Regions from separate parts of the Homo sapiens genome. Here regions 1 and 2 are each linked to region 3. The links come from fine-mapping of genetic effects on gene expression. A gene starts in region 3. Each other region holds a variant in brackets. All regions are shown on one strand. Distances are from middle to middle. Region 1 overlaps ARID3B (AT-rich interaction domain 3B). Region 2 overlaps CLK3-AS1 (CLK3 antisense RNA 1). Region 3 holds the start of EDC3 (enhancer of mRNA decapping 3).

The links. PIP is the estimated chance that this variant, and not a neighbour inherited with it, causes the effect.
Region 1: its variant is fine-mapped to the expression of EDC3 in whole blood (TOPMed, PIP 0.98).
Region 2: its variant is fine-mapped to the expression of EDC3 in whole blood (TOPMed, PIP 0.99).

Annotation. Positions count from the first base shown.
Region 1 is chr15:74,591,190-74,595,370 of GRCh38, reverse strand. ARID3B (AT-rich interaction domain 3B) reads right to left here. Exons shown (of 9, transcript NM_006465.4): 6 at 3,937-4,181; 7 at 3,557-3,811; 8 at 2,135-2,233. Among named protein-coding and RNA genes, the nearest start is that of CLK3-AS1, 23 kb to the left of the region's middle. RefSeq lists an enhancer at 355-855. The variant T/C (reference allele first, on the strand shown) is at 1,764.
Region 2 is chr15:74,606,585-74,610,765 of GRCh38, reverse strand. CLK3-AS1 (CLK3 antisense RNA 1) reads left to right here. Exons shown (of 9, transcript XR_007064715.1): 2 at 363-463; 3 at 535-1,164; 4 at 1,637-2,552; 5 at 2,751-2,867. It also overlaps a transcript of CLK3 not described here. Among named protein-coding and RNA genes, the nearest start is that of CLK3-AS1, 7.1 kb to the left of the region's middle. The variant TG/G (reference allele first, on the strand shown) is at 2,561.
Region 3 is chr15:74,694,295-74,698,475 of GRCh38, reverse strand. It overlaps EDC3 (enhancer of mRNA decapping 3), which reads left to right and starts at 2,452. Exons shown (of 7, transcript NM_025083.5): 1 at 2,452-2,596. RefSeq lists an enhancer at 2,403-2,492.

The DNA.
Region 1 (4,181 bases), 100 kb after region 3:
GGTGTACCCAGGGTACACAAAGAGGAACACCAAGGCCAGGTGTGGTGGCTCACAACTATAATCCCAGCACTTTGGGAGGGTGAGGCAGGAGAATAGCTCAAGGCCAGGAGTTTGAGACCAGACTGGGCAATACAGCAAGAGCCTTGTCTCTATAAAAATTTTTTTTAAAATTAGCTGGGCATGGGTAGTCCCAGCTACTCAGGGGGCTGAGGCAGGAGGATCACTTGAGCCCAGGAGGTTGAAGCTGCAGTGAGCTATGACCGCACCAATGCACTCCAGCCTGGGTGACAGAGCCAGGTGGGGTGGGTGACTGGCTCCCTTCTTGTCAGGGGTTTGAGGAGCCTTCAACTTCTGACCCTTCCTCATTCTGAGAGGGAAGGAGTTACCTTCTCCTTTCTCCTTGACAGAGGACAAAAGGATATCAAGATCCAGGCCTTGAATTCCTACTTCCCTGCTTTCTCCATGGACCTAATTCCAACCCCCAACCCTCCCAAACCACAGCACAATGAAGAGGCAAAGGGCACCAGGCCCCACCTCCTCCAGGGGCCTCCTGTGACAGGTAGAGACCTCTGAGCAGAGTCTGCAGACATAGCATGACTGGTGAGCCCACTTGGCACCACTGCTCCTCTACACTCTGTCCTCTCTCTGAAGTGAGTGGCCCAGCAGAGATCCAGAGCATGCTCCCAGGAGGCCTGCAGGGCGGTGCTCTGAGGGAGTGTGGCCCTTAGAATGGGAGTAGGCCCTGAGGAAACACTCCCAGTTGTGATAGAAGGTGCAGTTGTAGGGCTTTCGCCTGTCTCCACGAGACACCTTGCCAGGCTGGCTGACACTCCGCATGCCCTTGGGCCCTTGGTAAAACAGGTGGGTGATGCCCTGGGCCAGGCCTGGTGGCCCCCACTCATAATACTGTGCTTTTTTTTTTTGAGACGGAGTCTCACTCTGTCGCCCAGGCTGGAGTGCAGTGGCGCGATCTCAGCTCACTGCAAGCTCTGCCTCCCAGGTTCACGCCATTCTCCTGCCTCAGCCTCCCGAGTAGCTGGGACTACAGGCACCCGCCCCCACGCCTGGCTAACTTTTTGTATTTTTAGTAGAGACGGGGTTTCACTGTGTTAGCCAGGATGGTCTCGATATCCTGACTTCGTGATCCACCCGCCTTGGCCTCCCAAAATGCTGGGATTACAGGCGTGAGCCACCGCGCCCAGCAATGCTGTGCTTAACAAGAGTCAGGTGGGCTTGTTCCCAAGCTCGTCCGTAAACCAATGAAATGGGAATGGGAAAAGGACTGCTGTTTTTATGAATATTAAGTTTTGTTTTTTTTTTTTTTAATTGAGACAAGGTCTTGCTTTGTCACTCAGGCTGGAATGCAGTGGTACAATCACGGCTTACTGCAGCCTCGACCTCCTGGGCTCAAGTGATCCTCCTGGCCTCAGCCTCCCAAGTAGCTGGGACCACAGGTGTGCACCACCATGCCTGGCTATTTTTTTTTGTATTTTGTAGATTTGGGATTTTGCTATGTTGCTCAGGCTGGTCTCAAACTCCTGGGCTCAAGTGGTCCTCTTGCCTCAGCCTCCCAAAGTGCAAGGATTACAGGCATCAGCCACCGTGCCCAGTCATGAATACTAAGTTAAACCCTTAGAAAGACTCTGTAAAGGTGCGAAATCAACCAACCAACAAAACACTGTTGCCAAATTAGGTTTAGGAAAAGATAACTGTAAAAGACTGGGGGGCAGGGAGCTTAACAATGTAAGCTGATTCTCCTATAC[T/C]GGGGTTCCTTTGCCTGTGTCTCAGTCTGCAAAAGGAAGAGAAGAGCTGAATTACAGTCAGAGAAAGGCTGTGCATGAGAAGACCTGGGGATTGTGGGACACTGACTGACTTCTTCAATTAACGAGCCAACCACTGGTCTAAAAGGGTTAGGTGAAGGGTTTCTGCCAAAGTGGGAGGGACCTATCATCCTGTTAACAATCCACAGTCTACTAGTCCAGAGGACCACTTGACCTTTGCAACTCTGAGACCAGGAAAAAGGAAGCCACTGTGGGAGGTGTTCAGACAGAGGGTAAGAGGCAGGGCCAGCCGCAGAGCTGCCCTGTGGCTAGCTGCGGCCACGTGGGCCTCCCCCAGAGCTCCAGGGCCTCACCTGCATAGGTGGTGCCATCGATGTCCACAGACATGTTAATGCTCCCAATGCTACTCGTGGTCAGGTTCAGTGCTGCAGCCGAGGCCTCTGCTCTGTCTTCTGCTGGGGACAGGGAGACAGTGGGCCTGGTCAAGCCTTCCACAGCACTCCTGTTGTCCTCTCTGATGCTGCCTGGCCACCCCTGGTCAAAGCCTCACGCTGTTAAAAGGCATCTATGTAACCTTCTCCTGAGTGTAGGGTATGGCAGGAGATCCCAGGCTCGCCAATCTCCTGTTGCTGGCTTTTTCCACTGACCCAGTTCATCCCCTCAACTACCTCTGCTCCCAGAGAAAAGGAATCACAGTAGGCAAGGAGGCCGGCTCCGGCCCCACCACTCTGCACTGGCACTTTCCAAGTGACGGGCAAACCCTGAACTACACTATACACCAGGCCCAGGAAATCAGAGATCAATGAGACCCAGCCCCAACTTTGAGGACCCACCTGCCCTTTCTTTCCTTTGACTCTGAGTCCCTCAGAGAGAGGAGTCTACGCCCTCAGCCCCTCCCCTCCATGACCACCCAGGCAGCTGGCGTTTGTGGAAGCCTGCAAGTGCTGGCACACACGGCCTTTGGCTGGCTCACCCCAGACTCAGAATTCTTCCCGGTGAGCTGTCTTTTCTAACAGCCCTTTGCTTTGTGCAGGAGCAGGGTACCTGGCCCTGGATGAGCTGTTACCTCCCAGTTTCCTTCTGGTCCCCAAGGGCAATGGGGTAGGAGGGGCAGCCTGGGAATATGTATAGCTCCCTTCACACCTGGCTCCTTCCCACACATCTCATTCATGTTTGCTTTGAGATAGCATCAGGACCAGAATGGGAAAGAATGTGTGTGAATGGGAAAAGGGGCGTGTGGCTTGAGGAAGAGAATGTGGGGCACCAGAACAATGTGAAGAGGAAGGGAAAGGATGTCAATTATGCTGCCAAACTTGTGTTTCCTCCTTCTGTCTATATTCCTGAGTCCCACTGTCCAGCCCGGGGCAACTTGGCCCCTCGCTGAGCCTCAGGAACATGGGGTGTCTTCCTCCCAGACCTGCAGACGGTGCCCTGCTCTTGCCTACATCCAGTGAGGTGCTGGGGTAATGGCTGGTGGGGAAACGCAGCAGCTCTCTGAAGGCCTCTGGCTCCTCCTCTGTGAATAACTGCTTTTCCCTCTTACTAGAGAACAGGGCACTGCCTGAGGCAACATGTGGTCCCCTCTACCAAACAACCTCAGCTTGGTGAACTAAGATCTCAGTGCCTCTCTTCTAGGGGCCTGGAAGGCAGAACCTGGAGGGGCCTCTTCCAGGTCAGGAGTATGTGCCTCACCACCCCTGCCCCACCAGTCCCAGGAGGCGTGAATGGGCTTGGGGTTTCCAGGAAGGGAAGGCCCGGCCCTGAGCCTGGCTCACCCCTGCCGTTGATCCTGATCTTCATGGGGAGCTGCCGTGCCATGCTGAAAAAGTTGCGCTGGAAGGCCTGCTGCACCAGGCGCTGCTCCTCCTCAGACAGCCTCGATGCCTTCTTCTCAGCAGGCTCCCCTGACTCCAGCCGCTCCCGCAGCTGCTCCAGTGCGGCGGTCCGAGTACCAGCCTGCTGGCTTGCCAAGGTCACGGGCACAGCCAGACGATTTGGCACAGGCACTGTTGTCACTGGGGCTCCATCACCTGCAAAGGAACTGGAGCTGGACCAATCCACAATTGACCCTCTTGCCCCAAAACCCCAGTCTTGAACACAGGGAACTGGCATCCCTTCCTCCCTTTCTTCCTTCTCCCCCAGGAGCCCTGCTGACCTTTCCTGAGAGTGGTTGCTGGGGATATCCGAGGGCTACTGGTATTGGTACCACTGCTGGAGCCAAGCCCAAGGATGGGAAAGCGGATCTTGGGTGGGGAGAGAAGGGCAGGGGCCCCGGCAGCGGCAGCAGCAGTAGCCGCAGCAGGTGAGTAGCCAAAGAGGGAGGAGCTGTAGCTGGGCCGCCGGCCCTCCCTGCGGTTGCCATCAATTGCTGCCTGGAGCTCGGCTGGGGAACTCAAGGCT
Region 2 (4,181 bases), 88 kb after region 3:
GCCTGCCCTTTAGCATGCCACAGCAGTCCTGCTGGCCTCCACCCTGAAGCTGTCAGCAGCTGGAGAGCAGCTGGAGAGGCGGTGTATCTCGGGCCCAGCTGGAGGTAGAGATGCACAGCTGGAGCCTGTCGTGATAGATAACAGCCAAAAGCAGCCCCTCAGGGCCCCAGGGCACAGTCCCTTGTATATAAGCCAGGGCATGGGTCCATGTTGGGCTGTCAGCTGGGCTGCTGGCTGCCAGTCCGCCTGCGTTATCAAAGGCTGCAGACACTGCCCTGCCTGGTGGGAGGCAGGGAAGCTAGCCCTACCTATCTGAGGCTCTGTGCTGCCTTCAGCCCTCCCACTCAGCCTCCTCCTAGCAGGTGGAGTGCTCCCTGGCCTGCCTGGAGCAGGAGAGGCACCAGATGCAGGGATCCCAGGGACAGGCTGAGTGGAGGAGGCCAGACCAGAACATAGAAGACAAGTGAGTGGGGCTGGGCTGTGGGGGAGGGGTGGGGTGGCAGGGAACAGGCAGACCATCCCTTCTACCCACAGGATCCTGCTGCTGCAGACAGAAGTGGAAAAGGCCTAGCGGCATTTGGACCAAATGACCCAACAGCCTGTTGGCCCAGAGCCCAGCCTGGGGATCCCCCAAGTGGGTGCATGGCAGGCCCTGCGCACTGGCCCTGCTGTACCTTTGACTCTGCCCCACACTTTATTCTCTGGTCCTCATTATTGAAGCATTATCTAGAGAAGGAAGGCAGCGCAGGGGCTTAGTCCAGCCAAGAGAGGGATCCTCTTCCAACATTTGGGAATACCCTGGGATCATTCAGTGACTTCCCTCCTGGTTCAGATGGGAAAACTGAGACCAGAGAGCAGAGGAGAGCTTGTTCAGAGTCATAACTTGAGTTGGGGCCAGGACCCTGCCACAACATGCCCTGAGGCATCAACGGTCTGCCAAGACCACCCCAGTGTGGTCTGGAAGCTGGAAGGAGACCCCAGGATTCTGGACCAAGTGTATCTACAGGAGATGCTGGTGCCAGGCCTGCAGATCCAAGAGCAGAGCTGGGATGGAGGCAGGGCCCAGGAGCTTCGGGACCCAGAGTCTCCATGCCAGCAGCTGAGACCCCTGCCCAGGCTCAGGACACAGTCCGTCTGCAGGAGCAGTTGCTGATACTCACTGAGGTTGGTCAAGACAGCTGGCAGGGGCAGCCCCACAGGAAAGGGAATCTGGGCATTAGCTGATCCAGGCCATGCCCATCTGTACCAGGGGGCAGAGGCAAGGGAGCCTGGGCCCCATTCCTGGGGGATTCCAATGTAGGGCAAGGGGCTCTAGGGGCACAGAGGAAAGGAGAATGACCAGGAGAGAGAGATTCTAGCAGGGCGTCCACACAGTGACACTCCAGAGAGCACCATCCTCATCTTCACATAACTGGCCCCCCTGCTAGTGTGCAGCCAGGCACTGGTCCAGAGTCGTAGCCTGGAGTGTAGAGAAGCCTCTGCGGGCTGGGGTGGTCAGAGAGGCCTCCTGGAAGGGCTGAGACCCAGAGGAAGTGGAGTTCGGGGCCTCTGAGGAGGGGCTGCATGGGTAAAGGCTGGAGCTCCACAACCCTGGTGGAGGCTGAGCCACAACTCGGTGGGGTGGGGATCTCCCCAGGTGAACAAGAGACTCAGAAGAGCTGGGCCAGAGCCACCAGCAACTAGGGGCCTGCTTGGAGCAGCTGCAGCATCTGCAGGGAGAGCAGATGGTGTTGGGGGGCCATTGCAGGCCCTGGAGGCAGAGCACACCTGGCTACTTCAGGAGAAGGTGGGGCTGCTAGCAGCACTGGGTGTGGCCCCGGGCCAAGAGTCCTGGTAGGTGGCTGCTTGGGCCCATCCTCAGAGTGTCCAAGCCAGGCTGGGGTGGGGGCTCTGTTCTCACTGTAGGTGAGATGGCCCTCTCAGCAGGCGGTGGGCCAGTCTCTGTCACCAGCTGGCTGAGGGGGAATGGCCCAGAGCCCTAAACCCGGAATCACACGACCAGAGCCAGTCTCCCTTCCCCAGGTATCAGCGCTCCTGGTTGTCACATTCTGGCTCTTTTATGGGGTGGGAAATCTTTCAGCTTCAAGAAGTCCTGTCTCGCCTACATATGGCCAAGCCCCTCCTGCTGGCCCAGGGGCAGGTGGGAGGTGGGGGTGAGATGACCTTAGCTGCTGGGTGCAAGTCAGGGTCCTTGGGAGTAGAAGTGCCCAGTACAAAGGGGTTCTGTGTGTGCAGGGAGCCATGAAAGAGGCATCTCTGCCCCACTCCCCCTCCTAGTTCATAAGACAATAATCACTGAAAGGGAGTGGGGTGGGGGTGATCTGGGGTCCATGCTGTACCTGGACTGCACCATTTCTTCCAGTACACTCCAGGTCCTGGAGGTACCAGTGCCCCTCAGGAAAGAGCTAGAGGCACAAGAATCACATCCCAGGCTTCATGAGGAGATGGCTGAATATTGGAAGGCACGCTGGCACCGGCTGGCAGTTGCCCTGAAATTTAAAGAGGAGGAACTGCAGAGACTCCAGAGGCAGAGTGGGACCTGGCCTCCCCAGGTGGGCAC[TG/G]TCTCCCACCTTCTTCTCCACCCCCTCAACCCCGTTCTCCCCATTGTCTTCCCCACTGCCCAGTCTTTCCCATACAAACCAATTAGTCTCTTACCCCTCCTTAGGATGCCCCCATCTTGATCCTATACTTCCTTCCCATTTTCTGCCTCTTCCTCATCATGCCCCATCATTCTCCATCCATGTTTTCAGCATGCATTTATTGAGCATCTGCTACATGCCTGGCCCTCTTCTGTGTGCAGAAGCAATGTCAAATCAGATCACTCCTTGTCCTCAACAGCTTATGGTTTGGGGGCACCCGGTAATTGAGTAAGCAATTATTTATTTATTATTGATTGATTTATAATCGATTGATTGATTGCATCAGGGTCTCTGTCACCCAGACTGAGGTGCAGTGGTGCAATCATAACTCACTGCAGCTTCAAACTCCTGGACTCAAGCGATCCTCCTGCCTCAGGTAGCTGGGACTGCAGGCACGCATCACCATGCCTGGCTAAGTTTTTTTTTTTTTTTTTTTTTTTGTAGAGATGGGGGTCTCACTACATTGCCCAGGGTGGTCTTGAACTTCTGACCCTCAAGCAGTTCTCCCACCTTGGCCTCCCAAAGTTCTGAGACTACAGGCATGAACCACTGTGCCTATTTTGCAAGTAATAATTTAATGTGCCAGATGAGGGAAGAGGCACAGTGGGAGCTGGTTAAGGGGTGGCAGATAGGAGAGTCCCTCCCAGAGAAGGGGTTTCTGAGCCTCTGAACCCTCACACAAGGATAGACAGGCATTTTCCAGGAGGAGAGAGGAAATGAAGGGCATTTCAGCAAGAGGAAACTGCACATACATATACCCAGAGAGACAGGGGAGGAGTGTTGTAAATAGCCCCTGATCCACTTGAGAAGGAGAGTGGGTGAGGGGGTTACTATGGACATGGGACAGGGGCCAGATCTAGGGTTTAGATGTCCCAGCTCCTGTCCACCTGACTTCACCTCCAGCTTGGTGGCTGCCTTCTCCTGGTCAGCATCCCTTAGTCTCCTGGGCAAGTGTATGTGTGCATGGACAGACAGACACACAGACATGCATGCACACACACACCCCCAGGATACACATCAGACATCTGCAGACACCCCCAGATATGCACACACACAGACACAGAGAGAGATACAGACACCAACGAGGTGCCTGGGAGCCATAGGGAAGTAGTATTCTAAGGACCCCATGTGGGATCCACGCTCTGCCACAAGGCACCTGACTGAAGCTGATCTGCTGATCTCGATGGAAGGAAAAGGAGAGAAAGCTTAGCTGGCTTTGGGCCTCATAAAGGTTGAGTTGGTCTAAATCAGTGTATCTCAAATGGGTACACAACTGTGCTCATAGGGGGCTGTTCCTTAAGTCTGCAGTGTAGTCTGCCACTATATATTTGTACAGAGGAAAATCTCAGTTTTTTGTTTTGTTGTTTTTTTTTTTTGTTTGTTTGTTTTTGTCTATTTCTCAAACCAGACCCTTGAGGGTCAGAAGATATATCCTCAGCGCCTGGATGGGCTATATTCTTTGGTCAAGTCTGAGGACTTGCAGTGGGCAATGTCAGTGAGAAGGTAGTGGAGTGACAGAGGGCTGGGCCCTCGGCAGATTTG
Region 3 (4,181 bases):
GGTACGGTGGCTCACGCCTGTAATCTCAGCACTTTGAGAGGCCGAGGTGGGCAGATCAATTGAGATCAGGAGTTCGAGACCAGCCTGGCCAACATGGTGAAACCTTGCCTCTACTAAAAATACAAAAACTAGCCAGGTGTGGTGGCGGGTGCCTGTAATCCCAGCTACTTGGGAGGCTGAGACAGGAGAATCACTTGAACCCAGGAGGCAGACATTGCAGTGAGCTGAGATCGTGCCACTGCACTCCAGCCTGGGCAACAGAGTGAGACTCCGTCTCAAAAAAAAAAAAAAAATTATCTAGGCAAAGACCTTGCACCCTTCATAAAAATTAACTCAGAATGGATTGTAGACCTAAATGTAAAATGGAACACTATAAAACTCCTGGAAGACAACACAGGAGAAAACCTAACTGATCTTGGGAATGGCAATGACTTTAGGGCAATACCAATAGCATAATCTGTGAAAAATATAATTGATAAGCTGGACTTCATTAAAATTTAAAACTTCTGCTCTTCAAAAGAAGAATGAGAAGACAAGCCACAGACTAGGAGAAAATATTATAAAAGACGTATCTGATAGAGGACTGTTATCTACAATATACCCAGAACTCTTAAATCACAACAAGAAAATAACACAATGTAAAAATGGGCAAAATACCTGAATGAACACTTCATCAAAGAAGATATACACATGGCAAGTAAGTATATGAAAAGATGTTCAATATCATATGTCATTAGGGAATTGCATATTAAAACAATAAGATACTACTACACACTTACTTGAACGGCAAAATACTGACACCACAAAACGCTGACAAGGATGTGGAGCAACAGAAACCCTCATTCACTGCTGTGGGAATGCAAAATGATGCAGCCACTTTGAAAGGCAGTTTGGTAGTTTCTCCCAAAACTAAATATACCATCCAATCCAGCAGTTGCACTCCTTGGTATTTACCCAGATGAATTGAAAACTCATGTCTACACAAAAATCTGCACATGATGTATAGCGGCTTTATTCATAATTACCCAAACTTGGAGGCCACCAAGATGTCTTTCAGTAGGTGAATGGATAAACCGCAGCACATCCAGACGATGGAATATTATTATTCAGCACAAAAAAGAAATGAGCTATCAAGCCATGAAAAGACATGGAAGAACTTTAAGTGCATAAGTGAAAGAATCCGATGTGAAAAGGCTGCATACTGTATGATTCCAACTATATGGGATTCTGGAAAAGGCAAAACTATGGAGACAGTAAAAGGAGCAGTGGTTGCCAGTGGTTAGGGGACTGAGAAGGATAAATAGGCAGAGGACAGAGGATTTTCAGGGCAGTGAAACTATCGTGTATGATACCATAATGGTGGATACATGTCATTACATATATGTCAAAACCCACAGAATGTGCAACACCGAGAGTAAACTCTAATGTAAACTATGGACTCTGGGTGATAATGATGTGTCAAAGTTGGGTAATCAATTGTTACCAAATGTACCACTGTAGCACAAGATGTCCATGAGGGGACAAGTTGTGTATGTGCCTGTGTGTACAGGGGATATATGGGAACTCTGTACTTTCTGTTCAGTTTTGCCCTGAACCAAAAACTGCTCTATAAGTGTTCATTAATAACAGTAATTTTAAAAGACAAGGACCCCTTCTGACCTAGGGAATCTCTGGTGATGGAGGGGGAAGGGTGAAGCAGTCCCCTAGAAAGTGTAGATTTTACAAAGTTCTTCAACTGATTTTGTAGAGCTAGGTTTGGAACTGCTACCCTACTCTATGCTATTCGCCCAAGTAGTGGTTCCCAAACCAGGTGTCAGGCTTCAAGGCTGTGCAATATTCCTCATTACACGGTCTTGGCCCTAAACGCATGCTTTCCCGTCTCCCCACAAATCAAGACTCTAAAATGCCAGGGGTAGAAGAGCGGCACTTTCCTGTGTACTGAGTATGGGGGAAGGGAGAGCAGTCAAGCACGGACTGGCTGATTTTAACCCCCAAAAGGGCTGAAGCTGATACGCTTTGAAGATCGACCACGGCAGGAATATCTTGTTTTCTTTAATCCATCAGGGGGTTGTCGCACTTATTAAGTCCCACAGCTGCAGTTTAGCACGGAGGGGCTGTCACGTCACCAGGCCTCCCTGAAAGTCCTCCGCTCCAGCTCTGCGATTGGCGCTGGGGTAACAGGAGGGGAAGCGGGTGCTTTTCATCGAGCCTGCAAGAGGGGGGCCCAGGCATCGAGGCTGGGGAGTCGTGGGTAGAGCCCCGATTCCAGCCAAGACGCCACAGGACATAAGTAAGCGTGGAGGGCAAAATGACTACCCAAGCGCAATTCTGTAAGGCCGAAGGGACGTTCTTCCAACCTCTTAAATTTCCCGGGTGCCACGCCCCTCAATTGACGGCCCTGGATTCCAAGGTGTCGCGCCGGAAGTGACCTCACGGTGGTGGCGTGGAGACGTGGGGGCGCTTCCGGCAGCGGCGGCGGTGGTGAAGGCCGATGCTGTGGGGGTGGGCGTGGAGAGAATTCTTCTGTGGGTCCTCTGGTGTTGAGTGGTCGGCTTGGTGTGGTGTGCGGAGGAGCTCCAGGCCCGTCGGCGCGGAGGTGGGAGCGAAGGGAGGCTACTGGTTTGTGGACGGTCGTGGGAGGGGGCTGCCGGGGTTGCTTTAGGCTTCAGAGTTCCAGGCCTCGTAGACCTTTATAGAGGCAGGCAGGCAGGCAAGAGCTGGGGGCTTCATCGGATGAGCAGGGGACCACGTACTACGGGCGGCCCCAGGAGTTTGGTTTGAGGTGGAAGGCTGAGGACTGCAGGATTCTAAATAGTATGGGGATTGTGTGGGGAGTGAGGCATTAGCTGCTTGGGCCCTTAGTCCAGCCTTGTTGGTGGCTGCTGCAGTTCTTTGGCTCACTCACTCTGTTCTTCGTGCCTCAGTTTCCCTTTGCATAATGAGATACGGTGGCAGAGAAGAACGCCAGTGCCACATCCATGACTGATAGCTTGAGGACGGAGATGAACTGGAGGGTAGAAAAAGAGGATGCCTGAGAAATTTATACCTACCAGGTCACATCTTCGAATCCCAGGAAGTTATCCCTGGATTCATTTCTGCCTTTGATGCAAGTCTGTGGTTCTTTTCAGTACACTTTGTGTGATATTGATTGTATGTATCAATACTTGACTTGCTGAGTGGTTAAAGTGTTTTGGTTTGTGGGAGGCATAGTCCTTGTTGGCTTGGTCAGTTAATTTTCAGTTAATCTCCCAATAGCAATTGCTTCGCCTAACTCTTCAATTGGGAGATTAGTTGAAAATCAACTGACCAAGCCAACAGTCTTCTCCTGTGGTTACAGGTGAGGAACTCGCGACCCAGAATGGTTTTTCTTCTCTTCCTTCGCCACAGACCAAACCGATTTCAGTCTGCTGTCTCAAATACAGGTCTTCACCCCACCAAAACAGAAATGGCTGTCTCCAAGCAGTTTAGTATTTCAACTGGACACCCAGATGGATCCTAATCTTTTTTTTTTTTTTTAATGAATGGCAGATTACGTGTACTGAGCACAAAATCCTCTTAGCTAGTTTCTCTGTATGATGTAAAAACATGACATTTTGTTTATTACCAATTTCTTGGTAGAGCCTCCTTGGCATAGGGCTGTGGGGCTAGAAAAGTGTCTCAAAATTTTTTACCTGTGACCCACAGTTAGATATATTATACATCATGACTTATTGTGCCCCTGCACACTCAGTGTGTACACACACACACACACCAATGAAAAGTTTACTTACCCTTTCTACAGAAGATGCACTCTAAAAAAATATTGGTTGCAACTCACTAAATTGAGTCTGACCCCTAATAGGTCATGACGTATAGTTTGAAAAATATTAAGGCCGGGCACTGTGGCTCACGCCAGTAATCCCAGCACTTTGGGATGCTGAGGCGGGTGGATCACCTGAGGTCAGGAGTTGGAGACCAGTCTGGGCAACGTGGTGAAACCCCGTATGTACTAAAAATACAAAACTTAGCTGGGTGGTGGTGGGTGCCTATAATCCCAGCTATTTGGGAGGCTGAGGCAGGAGAAACGCTTGAACCTGGGAGGGAGAGGTTGCAGTGAGCCAAGATATGCTACTGCACTCCAGCCTGGGCAACAAGAACTAAACTTCTCAAAAAAAGAAAAGAAAAGAAAAATATTAGACTAG